Regions from separate parts of the Homo sapiens genome. Here region 2 is linked to region 1. Evidence: fine-mapped expression QTL. Tissue or cell type: substantia nigra. Region 1 holds a variant in brackets; the other region holds the start of a gene. All regions are shown on one strand. Distances are between the middles of the regions.

Region 1 (8,255 bases):
GTCTGCTGCAGCCTTGATGTAAAGTGTTAGGGCCAAGAGGTAATAGAAACCCCTGGAGTTTTCCTTGGAACTGAGATTAATTTTCGTCATTTAACAGGGATACTTACTTCCAGGTTCATCTGAGCAGGGACTTGGGAGGGGTCTCTTTGCCTTACTCTGGTGTTTCCATTACGGAGACTTTGAGCCAAGTTAGATTAGTTTATGGCAGCCCAGTTTAGGAAATGATTTTTTTCTGGTTGGTTGGATGGTTTGGTTGGTTTTTTTTTTTTTTTTAAGATGGAGTTTTGCTCTTGTTGTCCAGGCTAGAGTGCGATGGCACAATCTCGGCTCGCTGGAGCCTCCGCCTCCGGGGTTCAAGTGATTCTCCTGCCTCAGCCTCCTGAGTAGCTGGGATTACAGGTGCCCGCCACTCTGCCCAGCTAATTTTGTGTGTGTGTGTGTGTTGTTTTTTTTTTTTTTTTTTTTTTTTTTTTTTTTTTTTTGACAGAGTCTTGCTCCGTCGCCCAGGCTGGAGTGCAGTGGCGCCATCTCAGCTCACTGCAAGCTCCGCCTCCCAGGTTCATGCCATTCTCCTACCTCAGCCTCCCAAGTAGCTGGGACTACAGGCACCCACCATGATGCCTGGCTAATTTTTTGTATTTTTAGTAGAGACAGGGTTTCACTGTGTTTGCCAGGATAGTCTCGATCTCCTGACCTCGTGATCCTCCTGTCTCAGCCTCCCAAAGTTCTGGGATTATAGGTGTGAACCACCGCTACCAGCCAATTTTTTGTATTTCTAGTAGAGACGGGGTTTCTCCATGTTGGCCAGGCTGGTGTCCAACTCCTGACATCATGCAATCCACCTGCCTTGGCCTCCCAAAGTGCTGGGATTATAGGCATGAGCCACCGCACCTGGCAGTTTGTTTTTTTTGAGATGGAGTCTCTCTGTTGCCCAGGATGGAGTACGCGATCTAACAGCTCACTGCAGCCTTCACCTCCCATGCCCCAGCAGTCCCTCCCACCTCAGTCTTCCAAGTAGCTGAGACCACAGGCATGTACCACCATACCTGGCTAATATTTTTCTATTTCTGTAGAGGTGGGGTCTCCCTATATTACCAGGCTGGTCTGAAACTCCTGGGCTCAAACCATCCTCCTGCCTCAGCCTCCCAAAGTGCTGGGATTTTTTTTGTTTGTTTGTTTTTGAGACGGAGTCTTGCTCTGTCGCCCAGGCTGGAGTGCAGTGGCGCGATCTCGGCTCACTGCCAGCTCCGCCTCCTGGGTTCACGCCATTCTCCTGCCTCAGCTTCCTGAGTAGCTGGGACTACAGGCGCCCACCACCATGCCTGGCTAATTTTTTTTTTTGTATTTTTAGTAGAGACAGGGTTTCACTGTCTTAGCCAGGATGGTCTCAATCTGCTGACCTCGTGATCCGCCCTCCTCGGCCTCCCAAAGTGCTGGGATTATAGGCATGAGCCATTCTCGCCTGGCCTTGACCTGGTCTGTTTTTAATAAATGAGAAACATAAACCCACAAATTCTCTAAATTTATGATGCCATGGACTTACGTAAATGTTACTTCAACCTAAAACTTAACATTATTGTTAGTTTCTGGTCTTCAGCAGTCCCCTTTGAGAAAAAGCATTTATTCCCTAACAGATCACTTCTCCCGGATCACCTAAACTGGTAGCACACAATATCGCAACGCACTTTTATAGCGTTTACTGTGATGAATGGAGCATATTAATGTCTCTTCTGTGGATATGATTGATTCTCCCCCTTCCTTAGTGTTGTCTTCAAGCAAATATAGTTGGACCGACACTGAGTTTGATGTAGTTTACTTTAGGATTGTATTTATTATTGTATTTATTTCCAGGCTTAATCATAACATTGCTTATTGCTCGTAGCTTTGTAGCATTCTTACCCAGGAGTTTTGTGGTTGACCAACCACACAAAAAAAGTCACTTTTTAATTTTATTTATTATTTCTCCTCTTAGACCGCAGGATGGAAACAAGCCCACTGAGACTAGTCAACCTCAATCTAGCACAGGGGGTTACAACCAGCCCAGCCTAGGATATGGACAGAGTAACTACAGTTATCCCCAGGTACCTGGGAGCTACCCCATGCAGCCAGTCACTGCACCTCCATCCTACCCTCCTACCAGGTCAGTCTACTTTTTGTGGCAAAACAAAAACAGTGACAAAACAGTTTTTTTCAGGTTGTTGACCAGCTTGCTTTGACTTCTTCAGCTAAGGTATGTTATCTGACTGTCGCAGTGATAAGTCATCTGACCATACTTGGTTACATTAAAGCCTGAGATCTAGGGTCCCATAGTGTTGCCTGGCAGCTAATAACTATTCTTTTTTCTTTTTTTTTTTTTTTCCCCCGAGACGGAGTCTCTCTCTGTCGCCCAGGCTGGAGTGCAGTGGCGCGATCTCGGCTCACTGCAAGCTCCACCTCCTGGGTTCACGCCATTCTCCTGCCTCAACCTCCCGAGTAGCTGGGACTACGGGTGCCCGCCACCACGCCCAGCTAATTTTTTGTATTTTTAGTAGAGACAGGGTTTCACTGTGTTGGCCAGGATGGTCTCAATCTCCTGACCTCGTGATCCACCCATCTCGGCCTCCCACAGTGCTGGGATTACAGGCGTGAGCCACCGCACCCGGCCCAGCTAATAACTATTCTTTCTAAATACAAAAACATTTTTACCACTCTAAGTTCTTTCTTTAAGTTTCTTCCTTTTGCTGTTTTAGTTAACTCAGATGGGAAGCAGAAGTATATGAAAGCATGTAAATAGATGTAAGAGCCATCTTCCCCAATGCAGTTAGGATAAGTAAAGCGCAGGGCATTATAATTCACCTTAATCATTTTACATTTTACCTAACACATAAAGGTTTATTCATGCACTAACCTTTTAATGTATGGGCCAACTCTTTTTATTTTATTTTTATTATTATCGCCTGGCCAAGTTTTCTTTTTTGAGACAGAGTCTCACTCTGTTGCACAGGCTGGAGTGCAGTGGCACGATCTCCGCTCACTGCAACCTCTGCCTCCTAGGGATTCTCATGCCTCAGCCTCCCGAGTAGCTGGGACTGCAAGTGCATGCCACCACACCTGACTAACTTTTCTTTTTGTTTTATTGTTGTTTTGAGATGGAGTTTCGCTCTTGTTGCCCAGGCTGGAGTGCAATGGCACAATCTCGGCTTACTGCAGTTTCCACCTCCTGGGTTCAAGTGATTCTCCTGCTTCAGCCTCCTGAGTAGCTGGGATTACAAGTGCTCACTACCACACCTGGCAAAAATTTTTTTTTTTGTATTTTTAGTAGAGACAGGGTTTCACCATGTGGGCCAGGCTTGTCTGGAATTCCTGACCTCAGGTGATCCACCCGCCTCCACCTCCCAAAGTGCTGGGGTGACAGGCGCGAGCCCCTGCGCCCAGCCAGTTTGTTTGTTTGTTTTGAGATGGAGTTTTGCTCTTGTTGCCCAGGCTGGAGTGCAATGGCGTGATCTTGGCTCACCGCAACCTCTGCCTCCTGGGTTCAAGCGATTCTCCTGCCTCAGCCTCCCTAGTAGCTGGGATTAGATACAGACGCCACCACAACCGGCTAATTTTGTATTTTTAGTAGAGACGGGGTTTCTCCATGTTGGTCAGGCTGGTCTTGAACTCCCATCCTCAGGTGATCCGCCTGCCTCGGCCTCCCAAAGTGCTGGGAATACAGGCATGAGCCACTGCGCCTGGCCCAGTTTTTGTATTTTTAGTAGATACAGGGTTTCACAATGTTGGCCAGGCTGGTCTTGAACTCCTGGCCTCAAGTGATCCGCCCACCTTGGCCTCCCAAAGTGCTGGGATTATGGGATTACAGGTGTGAGCCACCATGCCCAGCCTGCAAGTTTTCTTAACCCATGTTTAATTAGATGTGGGTTTTCAAATTGTTTGAATTGTGCCCTGAAAGTTTTGCTAGAAGTAGCGGTTCCCTTTTTTGCACTCATTTCATTGTTTTGCAGCAGATGTGAACAGGTTTAGGAACAAGTAGAATTGATTGGGTGTCTCTCCATACAGCCAGCTTGGAGCAAAAGTGGGTAGGGCTTACAACCCTTCTTCCACAGAGCAGGTTCGTACCTATTGCATTGAGAGCAGTTAATAGCAGTTAATCTGGCAAGTTGGATAGGTACACAGTGAGAGATTATTGAATTCATACAGCAATGGTGAGGGATGTGGTGTGTTAGAAGCTTTGTTTGTTTGTTTATTTTTGGAGACCGGGTCTCACTCTGTTGTCCAGGCTGGGGTACAGTGACACAGTCGTAGCCCCCTGTAGCCTCGAACTTCCTGGCCTAGTTTAATCGGACTTTAAAATATGTGTCCTTACTGTTTCTCATCATGATTTGTAAAGCTTAATACCAGATGGGTTTTTTTGTTTTTGTGTGTGTTTTGTTTTGTTTTTTTGAGACGGAGTTTCACTCCTGTTACCTAGGCTGGAGTGCAATGGTGCGATCTTGGCTCACCGCAACCCTCGCCTCCCAGGTTAAAGTGATTCTCCTACGTCAGCCTCCCAAGTAGCTGGCATTATAGGCATGTGCCACCACACACAGCTAATTTTGTATTTTTAGTAGAGACGGTGTTTTTCCATGTTGGTCAGGCTAGTCTCGAACCCCTGACCTCAGGTGATCCACCCGTCTCTGCCTCCCAAAGTGCTGGGATTACAGGTGTGAGCCACTGCTTCTGGCCCTTGTTTTTTTTTTTTTTTTTTTGAGATGGAGTTTTGCTCTGTTGCCCAGGTTGGAGTGCAGTGGCGCTGTCTTGGCTCACTGCAGCCTCTGCCTTCCAGGTTTAAAC[A/G]GTTCTCTTGCCGCAGCCTCTCGAGTAGCTGGGACTATAGGCGTGTGCCACCATACCCAGCTAATTTTTGTATTTTTAGTAGGTGGGGTTTCACTATGTTGGTCAGGCTGGTCTCAAACTCCTGACCTCAGGTGATCCACCTGCCTTGGCCTCCCAAAGTGCTGGGATTACAGGCATGAGCCTTCAAACCTGGCCAATACCAGTTCTTTTCAAGCTTCATTTCTGTGCAAGAATGTATCTATTAATTTCTCCCATGTAATTGACATAATCTTAATATTTGTCTTTCATACAATTCCTTCATTCTGAAGTTTCCTCTATTAATACTCAGATTTCATAGTTAATCAGGCATGTCTGAAAGATTGAAAGTAGCAAAGACAAATCTTTGAGGGAAAACTACTATTTTTGTGTTGAGTACCCTTATCCCTTCAGAAAATCGTTAACTCGAGATTATTGGCGGGCAGGCTTGGAACTGAATGCCTCACTTCACTCTCTCTATATTTTCTCAGTCCCCATTTCACTGGGTCAGCCTTCCCCAAGTGCATATTCTTGCCACAATACAGGAAGCATCTAAACTCCCATATTTGCCTGCCTTGAATATAGTTGAAAATGACGTTTTGTTTTGTTCTTTTGAGACGGAGTCTCGCTCTGTCGCCCAGGCTGGAGTGCAGTGGCACTATCTCGGCTCACTGCAAGCTCCGCCTCCTGGGTTCATGCCATTCTCCTGCCTCAGCCTCCCCAGTAGCTGGGACTACAGGCGCCCACCACCAGGCCTGGCTAATTTTTTGTATTTTTTAGTAGAGATGGGGGTTTCACCATGTTAGCCAGGATGGTCTCGATCTCTTGACCTCATGATGTGCCTGCCTCGGCCTCCCAAAGTGCTGAGATTACAAGCGTGAGCCACCGCACCCGGCCTGATTTTTTGGGTTTTTTTTTGGAGACGGAATCTTCACTCTGTTCCCGAGTCGCCAAGGCTGGAGTACAGTAGCGGATCTCAGCTCACTGCAAACTCCACCTCCCGGGTTCATGCCATTCCCCCAGCCTCAGCCTTCCAAAGTGCTGGGATTACAGGCATGAGCCTCCGCTCCCAGCTGAAAATGACCATTGTTTTAAATGGGAGTGGCGATTAAGAGAAAACTCTTTAAGGATTATACAGATGGTGGTTATAATATTTCCCCCTCCCAGCTGGGCACCGTGGCTCATGCCTGTAATCCCAGCACTTTGGGAGGCCGAGGTGGGCGGATCATGAGGTCAGGAGATGGAGACCATCCTGGCTAACAAGATGAAACCCTGTCTCTACTAAAAACAAAAAAACTAGCCAGGCGTGGTGGTGGGCACCTGTAGTCCCAGCTACTCGGGAGGCTGCGGCAGGAGAATGGCATGAACCCGGGAGGCAGAGCTTGCAGTGACCGGAGATCACGCCACTGCATTCCAGCCTAGGCAACAGAGCAACACTCTGTCTCAAAAAAAAAAAAAAAAAAAAAAAAAATTTTTTTGTTTTACCCTCCCATTTAATGTTTTATTCTGAACACAAAAGTATTTGCTGAGTTGAAATTCAAATTGTTGATGTGTAGAAAGTAACTACTGTTTTATGGATGTCTGTGTCACATGGTGTGAATGTCTCTTTTATTCAGGGGATTTGAAATAACAAGCCTCTTTCTAAAAAAGCTTTTTTTTTTTTCTCTTCTCTCTCTTTCAGCTATTCCTCTACACAGCCGACTAGTTATGATCAGAGCAGTTACTCTCAGCAGAACACCTATGGGCAACCGAGCAGCTATGGACAGCAGAGTAGCTATGGTCAACAAAGCAGCTATGGGCAGCAGCCTCCCACTAGTTACCCACCCCAAACTGGATCCTACAGCCAAGCTCCAAGTCAATATAGCCAACAGAGCAGCAGCTACGGGCAGCAGAGTGAGTTGCTAAGAGAGAAAACCAAATAAGAATGAATGTGTTTAGAGTTTTTTTGTGGGGTTGATTTTTTTTGTTGGTTTGTTTTTCTTTTGAGATGGAGTTTCACTCTTGGGGCTGAGGCTGGAGTACAGTGGTGCCATCTCAGCTCACTGCAGCCTCCGCCTCCTGGTTCAAGCAATTCTCCTGCCCCAGCCTCCCGAGTAGCTGAGATGATAGGCGCCTGCCACTATGCCCAGCTATTTTTTGTATTTTTCGTAGAGACGGGGTTTCACCATGTTGGTCAGGCTGGTCTCGAACTCCTGACCTCAGGTGATCCTCCCGCCTCAGCCACCCAGAGTGTTGGGATTACAGTCATGAGCCACTGCGCCCAGCCACGTTTGGAGTTTTTGAACAGGGGGAATACTCTTTGCCATTGTTTGCTTTTGGAATCCAGGACACATCTTTAGGGCATGGCATTCCAGCTAACATCTTGGATGCCCCAGTGAAGATTTCAGTGCTTTTTTCCAATTTGTTTTTAGTATGCCTTGGCAAAAAAGAAAAGAGATACTAATTGATCAGAAAAAATGTTTTAGACTGCTAGCCCTGCTGTCTTTGGGGAAGTTGTATGCAGTGAGTAAATTCAACATCGTTTTTGGCCTCCCTATCAGTCATTAATGTAAAGTGGGGAGGCAGCTATTGCAGGCCACTATGATTTTGATAGTCAAGTAAAAGCTATGTTTTTTTGTTGCTGTTTGTTTATATCCATTAAGGGGAAAAATGGCCAGGCATGGTGGCTCACACCTGTAATCCCAGCACTTTGGGGGAGGCCAAGGCAGGAGGATCACTTGAGACCAGGAGTTTGAGACCACCCTGGGCAACATAGTGAGACCCTGTCTTTTTAAAGATAAATAAAGATTCTTTAAGAAAATAGAAAAGGAAAGGGGGAAAAATAATCCTCCTCACAGAATATTTGCAGTTCTTCTGTATGGAGAGAGGTAACCAAAACACATAATTATCTTCAGAATTTAGGATCATTGCTCTTTTTAAATTACATTCTATCCACGGGGATTTCTCAACAACTCAAAGGAGTAGTGTTGATTTATGGAGCTCAGCCCCTAGCAGTGTGCTAAAGCCCTAAGAAACCTGGCTCTGTTTTCATTTCTTGAGTTTAGCTCAAAAGAAGCTGCTTTTGGAGACATCTTAGGATATAGAACCCTATAAACTATATGTTAGCCAGAGGGCTTTTTTTGTTGTTGTTATTTAGAAGAGGTTTATTATAGGCTAACTATATAAGGTTATTTCAGCTGTGATGATCCAGCAGTTTTGTTGAACTTAAAAGAGCCTACCTATTAAGGATGCTTTATCGTGATGTAAAGAAGATGGTGCCTTGGTTAGTGCCTTGGAATTGAGGATTTTGTGATTCCAGGAGAAAGTACATCAGGCAGTGGTGTAAATGCTGGTCCATGGCTTACAGATGTGACTCTTTCCTCAGGTTCATTCCGACAGGACCACCCCAGTAGCATGGGTGTTTATGGGCAGGAGTCTGGAGGATTTTCCGG
Region 2 (8,000 bases), 32 kb after region 1:
GCCCCTCCGGACCCGCAGAGCTGGGGACATGGCATGCCCTGCACTCAGTCACCCCGAGGGCTGAGCCAGATTCCTGGATGTGATGGACCAGCTCAGCTGTCCCCAGACCCCATCCCTTCTCCTTTTCCTTTGTGGCCTTAACCCTTCTGCATCAGGGAGCCCCCTCTGCCTCTTGAGTACCAGACCTCATGGGACCAGACCCCTTGGGACCACATGGCACAATGGGACCTCTGTTGTACATTCCGGTTGGGGGATGAGCGTTGCTATTTAATTACTAATATTATTGAATGCCTTAGAGGAGGCCGGGCGAGCCCGGTGTTCTGAAGACCTGTGGCCCAGCAGAGCCTCTGACAGTAAAGTTTTGCTCCAGCCACCTGTCTGTTTCTTGGGGACTCCACCTTGGGGCCATTCAGACCCTTTCGAGGACCCTGGAGTTAACTGCCTGGAGGCCAAGCCTGGCAACTCTGACCTCTAGGCTTAAGGCGTTATCCCGCCCAGCCCAGAAATCCCAGGCGCACTCAAATTATTTTCCCTTTTATTATCCCGTGGTAGGTGTGGCATAAAGAATATGTCCAGTGAAGCTCCAGGAGCAGGCTGCGTGTTTCCAGTCAAGTTCATAGCCAAGTCCTTTCCATCCAATGGGATTGTGACCCATTGAGGTCCCAGAAAGGACTGGTCATCTCCAATGGAGCTTGGGACCTGGTTGGGTCCAATGAGGTTCAAAAGGGGGCCAGTCGCTTAGGAGACTGGGTTGGAGCTTTCCTCATCCAATCAGGGCGGAGACTTCCCTGTCCAGTCCCAGTGAAGTTGGGCGATCCCGTCCAATCCAGGTCCCTGATTGTCCCAGTCACAAGGTGGGGCCCATGGATGGCACTGTCCGATCGGGTCACATGAGGCTGCAGCGCGCGGGATGCAGCGCCCCCTGCAGGCGCAGGGCCGGGTGTGCAGGGCGCGCGCGCACCAGAGCGCAGCGCAGCAGCTCGCGGAAGAGACGCAGCACGTGCCAGTTGTACTTGGCGGAGCACTCGAGGTAGCCGCAGCGCCAGCCCCTGCGCACTAGGGCGGCCAGCGCGCGCCGCGGTCCGAAGCGCAGCCGCTGCCTGTCCCGCTTGTTGCCTACCACGAGGATGGGCGCTTCGGGCGCGCCCGCCGGCCTGGGGGCCGAATGGAGATGAGAGACGCGGGGACCCCACGGCCGGAGAATTCCCCCAGTGGGTATACACACGCAGGCGCATTCCCTTCCTACGGCCAGAGACACCGCCCCCCCCGCCGCCCCAACGAAACCCCAGGCCCATGTGGGCCAAAGAGCACATACAGCTTAAGACCTTCCCACGGGCGAAGGCCTAAGACCCGGCCCACGACGTTGGGAGACCCTACACACTCTCCTCAGGCAAAGGCCCTGCCAGACCTGTCCTAGCTCCCCACCGCCAGAACTGCCGGGCCCCTACCTGGTCTCCGCGATGCGCTGCCGCAGGGCCTTCACGTAGTCGAAACTGTCCGGGCTGCAGATGTCGTAGACGAGCACGAAGGCGTCCGTGTCCTGCAAGCTCCAGTCCTTAGCGTCTGGCCACTCCTGGGGACAGGAGGCCAGGGTTTGCGGAAGCCTCCTTTCCACTCTTCCGCTCTCGAACCCTCTGCAGGGGCCTGGACGCTAATCCTCAGGCCAACATCACCCCCATACAGACCTCTGTGCCCCTCCCCCAAGCTTTCCGGGCCGTCTCCTCATGACCACCAGGGTAAAATTTTCCAAATCGTGCCTGGAGCCTGTCAGCCAGCCTCCTTCATCCTTGGTCTCCCCTCTGTTTACCCCGAATCTTCCTCTTTTCAGCTTTCCCCAACTCGGCTCAGGCCGCTCTCCTCCCTAGATGCTCTCGGTGCTTACCACGGCCTCTAAGACTAATTCCAAAGCCCTTGGCCCGAGTCCCGTGGTCCACCACGCCCCCAGATTGTCAGCTGTAACCGTTTATGACCGTAGCGTAAGCACCTGCTGGTCTTTCCACCTGGTATGTTTTTGCCACTTCCTTTACTCAGAACTTCACTCGGTCTTCCAGGTTCAGCTCAAATGCCACTCCCTCCAGGAAGCCCTGCTTAATCCTGCCTGCTCTTTCCTCTTCACTGCTCTAGGGTCGGAGGTCTGTCCTTTACTTTGCACAAATTACTAAACGAGTCTTCGCTCCAGGGGACAAAAATGATAGGGCAGAGAATGAACCCCTCCACCAGCCCCCGTAGAAAGTACACCCCTGCTCCTGACCCCAGTCTCTCCCATTGTAGCTCTGCTCAAGGCCCCAAACACAAAACGCCACACTCTCGGGAAGGCACCGTTATGCACCACCAAGAGCTGCTCCACACCCCCAGCCGAGGCAGGCAAAGGTGGAGGCGCTCACAGGAGCAAGGGAACGCCCCTGGGCAAAATCGCCCGGCCTCCAGCCTGGGCTTGGGCGTCTCCAGGTCGGCGGGAAGGGCTGAAACGCAAGTATCCCAGGACGCACACACATCCCTCCATCCCGGAGCACAGCCAGGCGCCCGAGGCCTCCACGCGGACACGCACGTGTGCACCGAGCACGCACACCCCTCACACTGTCACACGCCCCTGCCCGCTCCTCGAGCCGCTACCTCCGGACCCCCGGGGCTCGAGCCGGGGCCAGCGACGTCGCCGTCGCGGATGCTCAAGTCGTAGACGGCGCCGTCGAGCAGCACCGCGGGTCGGTAGAGGCGCGGCCCGTCCGTGGGCCGGTGGCGCTCGGGGTAGTCACCGAACAGGAACTGGCGGATGATGGCCGTCTTGCCCACGCCCGGGGCGCCTAGAACGGCCACCCGCAGGCTACCCCCCATGGCCGGCCGGCGCTGTCGCTCCCCGCGCTGGAAAGCCTCATGGGCCGGCGCCGCACCGTGCGCCCCCAGGCCGTGCGCCCCGCGCGCCCTGCCCGGTGCGCCACGGCCCCGTCGCGCTTCTCGTCGCCCCTCGGAGCACCGAGACCGGAGAGGGCAGGCCCGAGGCAGGAGCTGGCGGCGGGAGGGCAGACAGACAGCCGAGTGGGCAGACAGGTGGCGGGCGCGCGAGCGGCTCGGGCGGGTGCCGAAGCTCGAGAGAGAGCAGAGCCGGAGCGGCGCTCAGACACCGCCTCCGCCCCGCAGCGCCAACCCAGGCGCCGGCGGACGCGCGAGGCGCCGAAGTCCGCCCCTCTCGCGGCGCGGGTCCCGCAGCGGTGCGGGGCGCGGGGGGCAGCGCTGCCTCCCGGAGCCTCTGTGCCTCTATCCTTCTCTCGCTTCCGCGCCTGGAGTCGCCGCCCCAGCCGCCGGCGCGAGCGAGCGGGGCCTCCCGGAGGCGGCGATGAGGTAACCGCCCGCCCCTCCCACCTTCCCCCACCGCCCAGGACGCCCCTCCCAGGAAGGGTCGCAGGAAGGTGACTGGGGGACAGAGATCCCGGAGAGGGCCTACCCCTTCCTTACCTCCTCCGCGTGTCCCGCTCCTCTCACCCGCTCCAAAATAGAAGCCCCTTCCCACCCACTGCCGCGGCCGCTCTTCCAAACACTGCTCGCCCCCACGCTGGCTCCCGACAAGCCCCGGCCCCCGGAGTCAGGCCGCCCGGGGTCCGAATTGGGGGGGGCGGCTGTGTGACCTTGGGCGAATCGCCGCACTGCGCTGGGTCTGCGCTCCGCATCCATCACAGGCAGACTCCTCAAGAGGCTCCAACCTTTTCTTGAGAGCCTACTATGTGCCAGGCCCATTACCTACGTGATTCTCGAACCTACAGCCTCAGCCTGGCATCGCTGGTTGAGAGAAGAGGAAACAGGCCCGAGAGGGGAATCTGCAAGGTTAGAAGGGCAGTGGGGGGGCCCTTGAAGTCTCCTTTGAAGTCCCTCCTACCTTCCTCCTGCCCACGGGGGTAAATGGCCCACACTAGACAATATTCAAACAGCCGTCCTCGAGGGGAAGTGGGGACAGAGGGTGCCGAGACCACAGCAGCTTAGCCCCAGATCCCTGTCCCAGCAAGGCTGGAGGTGACTAAATAAAGATCCAGAAATTGGCCCACTCCACCTCCATCACTACTAAGGTCACCTTTCCTGCGTGAGTTGCAACCCGTAGCGCCCCTCAAAGGGATGCAACCTCCAAAACAGGCGCCCAGAGCCCAAGTTCCCCCTCCCTCGAGCTAGTGGAGAAGCTCCTGCCCCATCACAGCTTGGAAAGCCTGGGTTAGCCCAGCCCCCCCATCCTCCGCCTCTGCTCTCCTCCCCGCTGTGTGGGGGCTCCCACGTCTCTGACCTGCACATGGCAATGCTCAAGAAATGGCGGCAATGCTCAAGAAATGGCCGCAATGCACAGATCTCTGCACTGACTAAGGAGTTCATTTATTTATCCCCTCAACAAATATTCCAAATCTTATTGCTTGTCAGGAGGCTGAGATAGATTTAAAAAACAGAAAACAGGAAAAAAAAAAAAAGTTCTGCTTTGGGAGAGAAGGTTCTAGAACACATGGGATCTAGGGACTGTCAAAGCACAGACAATGTGCCCACACCAGCCCAGGGGAAGTAGAGGAGCTAAATCCTGAAGGGGGAGGAGGCACATCCTCCAGGGAGCCTGTATAATGACAACCAGAAAGTGTCTCCAGAACAATGGCTGTGCTTTCATCCTCCCATGCTAGATCGGGGGCTGGGGTCCGCTTTCACTCCTCTCCTCAGCCACTAGGAAGCTCAGAACCACCTCTGTCTAGTGTTCCAGGTCTTCTAGCTCAGTGAGTGGGGACTGCTGGCTTCATCTTTCTTTCCTACCATGATTTTTCCCTTCACTTGATGTCCTCTTTCACGTTGTAACTTTTCAGACTTCTGGGTTTTGTTGTTTGAGACAAGGTCTTGCTCTGTCACCCAAGCTGGAGTGCAGTGGTGTGATCTTAGCTCACTGCATCCTCAACCTCCTGGGTTCAAGTGATCCTCCTTGCCTCAGTCTCTCAAATAGCTGGGACTGCAGGTGTGTACTACGACATCCAGCTGATTTATTTTTATTTTTTGTAGAGGTGGAATCTCACTATGTTGCCCAGGCTGGTCTTGAACTCCTGGCTTAAGCAATCCTCCCTCCTCAGCCTCCAAAAGTGCGAGGATTACAGGCGTGAGCCACCACATCTGGCCAAACTTCTGGGTTTTTGACTTTTCAGGCTTCTGGGTTTTGTGAGCTGCTTCAATTCCTTCGGGGAACAAGGCAAGGAGTAAATAACAAGGCACTCAGCAACACAACAACAAAACCCAGAAGTCTGAAAAGCTGACACCAGGACGGTCTTTTGTTTGTTTGTTTTGAGATGGAGTCTCGGTCTGTCACCCAGGCTGGAGTGCAGTGGTGCGATCTTGGCTCACTGCAACCTCCACCTCCTGGGTTCAAGCAATTCTCCTGTCTCAGCCTCTAGAGTAGCTGGGACTACAGGCACATGCCACCATGCCCGGCTAATTTTTGTGTTTTTTAGTAGAGACGGGGTTTCACCATATTGGTCAGGCTGGTCTCGAACTGCTGACCTCAGGTGATCCACCCGCCTCAGCCTCCCAAAGTGCTGGGGTTTCAGGCATGAGCCACTGCGCCCGGCCAGGACGGTCTTTTTTAAGGTGTTCTCAATGCTAGGCGCACTCCCGCCCACCCCTGGGTATTCTTTCTCTGAAAAACTTTCCTTGCTTCTCCTTCCGACACTGCAAACAGAGCTGTGTGTGAGGCGTCTCTGGCTCCCAGTATGTGTTTTTGGATGGCGAGGGGAAGGGGCACTGTGGACTGGGAACGTCCTGAGGCTCCCATGAAGCCCTGCAAACGTGCCATGTTCCCTAGGAGACTCTCACAGCAGCGTTCCTAGCAGCAGTGCCCATTTATCAAGGGCCTGCGATGTGCCAAGCCTGACCCACAGCCTCATGCTCACTAAGGCTCCCTGGGACGCCATGATTGGGCCACAGTTGCCTAGCAGGAAAATGGCAGCACAGGGGCCGGAACCCAGGCCCTTGGGCTCCAGAGCCTGGCTGAGAAGCCTGGCTTCATCTGGACCCAGAGGGTTCTCAGGAAGTACTCAACTGAAGCTCAGCCCCCAGTGACCACTCAGCCCCCTGTCGGGAGGGACTTGGGGAGGCCTCTAGGTCCCGTGGAGCCCCCCATCCACAGGGGCTGAAATGAGCTCTAATGGGAGTGTGCAGCCCTGTGCCAGGCTTCCTAAAGACCAGCAGGCTGGGGGGCTGAAGCTGCCTGTCTGCCTGGGATGTGGATTTCAGGGTTCTCTCATCAGTCCCCTCATTCCTTCCCCAAGGAAAGGCTGTAGGCCTCCTGCCTGCTGCCCCCCTCCAATCCCTATTCCCCAGGGGCCTCCTGGGCACTCCTTGAATGCCCCTATCCAGGGCTCCAGGGACCACCTGCCAACTATGCATGCATCTTCTCCTTCAGCAGAGGGGACTGGCACTAGGCACACAGTGGCCAAGGTGGTCCTGCCTACCCTCTGTGGCAGGGAGAAAGAGACAGACATGCAGCTAGGCAGGGACGGGTGAAGACAGGAGCTCTGGGCTGGTTCAGGCCTGGGGAGATGAGGAGGCCTAGGGTAAGCACCAGTCCAGCGGGAGTTGAGGGGCTTATACTGAGCCCTGAAGGATCAAGCCACAGATAGTGGGGAGGGCTGGGCAGGGGCAGGCACCAGGTGGGGAATTCTGCTTTCCCCAGTTCATTGCCCACAGGCTCCTAACACCAGCTACCTGGCCTTCACCCATGTGTTTCTTCCCAACTGGGCCTGATTCCAGCCCATCCCTGAAGTCAGGCACCCAAGACTGCATCCAGCTCCCAGGGGGTGTTAGTTCTGGACTCCTTTGCTAGGCCACACCAGTCACCACTAATTATGGTCTGTCCTGGCCACGAATCATGGCTCCACACCACCAGTAACTCACCTCCTGGACCCACGAATGGAGGGATCCTCCACAGCTCACATGCTTGGGGTGTAGTGGGTCCTTGGACATCCTCATGATGACTCCCACTAATCACAGCCAGGCAGCCTCTTGAGGGCTGGGCTGGTCTTCCAGCCATCAGGACACAAGGAGGCTGGGCAGGGCTGGGCTTCCAAGCCTCTGAAAGTTTCTTTTCTTGGGTTTGAAACCTCCTTCCAGGGCTGTGTCATCTGTGCAAGTTACTTAAATTCTCTGCACCTTGGGCTGGGTGCAGTGGCTGACGCCTGTAATTCCAGCACCTTGGGGAGGCCCAGGCGGGAGGATCGCTTGGGCCCAGGAGTTCCAGACCAGCCTGGGCAACACAGTGAGACCCCGACTCTAGAAAAAATTTTAAAAATTGGCTGGGTGCAGTGGCTCACGCCTGTAATCCCAGCATTTTGGGAGGCCGAGGCAGGGGAATCACGAGGTCAGGCATTTGAGACCAGCCTGGCCAACATGGTGAAACCCCATCTCTATTAAAAATATAAAAATTAGCCAGGCATGGTGGCGGGGGCCTGTAGTCCCAGCTACTCTGGAGGCTGAGGCAGGAGAGTCACTTGAACCCGGGAGGCAGAGGTTGCAGTGAGCCGAGATTGCGCCACTGCACTCCAGCCTGGGTGACAGAGCGAGACTCCGTCTCAAAAAAAAAAAAAAAAAAAAATTAAAAAACTAGCTGGGTGCTGTAATCCCAGCACTTCGGGAGGCTGAGGCAGGTGGATCACGAGGTCAGGAGATACAGATCATCCTGGCTAACATGGTGAAACCACGTCTCTACTAAAAAATACAAAAAATTAGTCGGGCATGGTGGTGGGCGCCTGTAGTCCCAGTTACTCGGGAGGCTGAGGCAGGAGAATGGCGTGAACCCGGGAGGCAGAGGTTGCAGTGAGCCAAGATCGCACCACTGCACTCCAGCCTGGGCGACAGAGCAAGACTCTGTCTCAAAAAAAAAAAAAAAAAATTAGCTAGGCGTGGTGGTGCACACCTGTGGTCCCAGCTACTCAGGAAGCTGAGGTGGGAGGATTGCTTGAGCCCTGGAGGTCGAGGCTACAGTAAGCCATGATCACACCACT

Direction of the effects. Positions count from the first base shown, and alleles are read on the strand shown. Sizes are in standard deviations (SD) of each study's normalised expression.
With allele A in place of G in region 1, the expression in substantia nigra of the gene that starts at base 3,283 in region 2 is higher (moderate effect, 0.60 SD a copy in GTEx).

Evidence for each region. PIP is the estimated chance that this variant, and not a neighbour inherited with it, causes the effect.
Region 2: it holds the start of RASL10A, and the variant in region 1 is fine-mapped to the expression of RASL10A in substantia nigra (GTEx, PIP 0.92).

The regions. Positions count from the first base shown.
Region 1 is chr22:29,280,418-29,288,672 of GRCh38, forward strand. It overlaps EWSR1 (EWS RNA binding protein 1), which reads left to right. Exons shown (of 17, transcript NM_005243.4): 6 at 1,973-2,140; 7 at 6,506-6,717; 8 at 8,189-8,255. Among named protein-coding and RNA genes, the nearest start is that of EWSR1, 16 kb to the left of the region's middle. The variant A/G (reference allele first, on the strand shown) is at 4,810.
Region 2 is chr22:29,312,415-29,320,414 of GRCh38, forward strand. It overlaps RASL10A (RAS like family 10 member A), which reads right to left and starts at 3,283. Exons shown (of 3, transcript NM_006477.5): 1 at 2,614-3,283; 2 at 1,449-1,573; 3 at 519-1,154. The coding sequence starts at 2,832. The coding sequence ends at 887. GAS2L1 (growth arrest specific 2 like 1) reads left to right here. Exons shown (of 6, transcript NM_001362985.3): 6 at 1-373. The coding sequence ends at 83. RefSeq lists enhancers at 1,670-2,474, 2,475-3,279.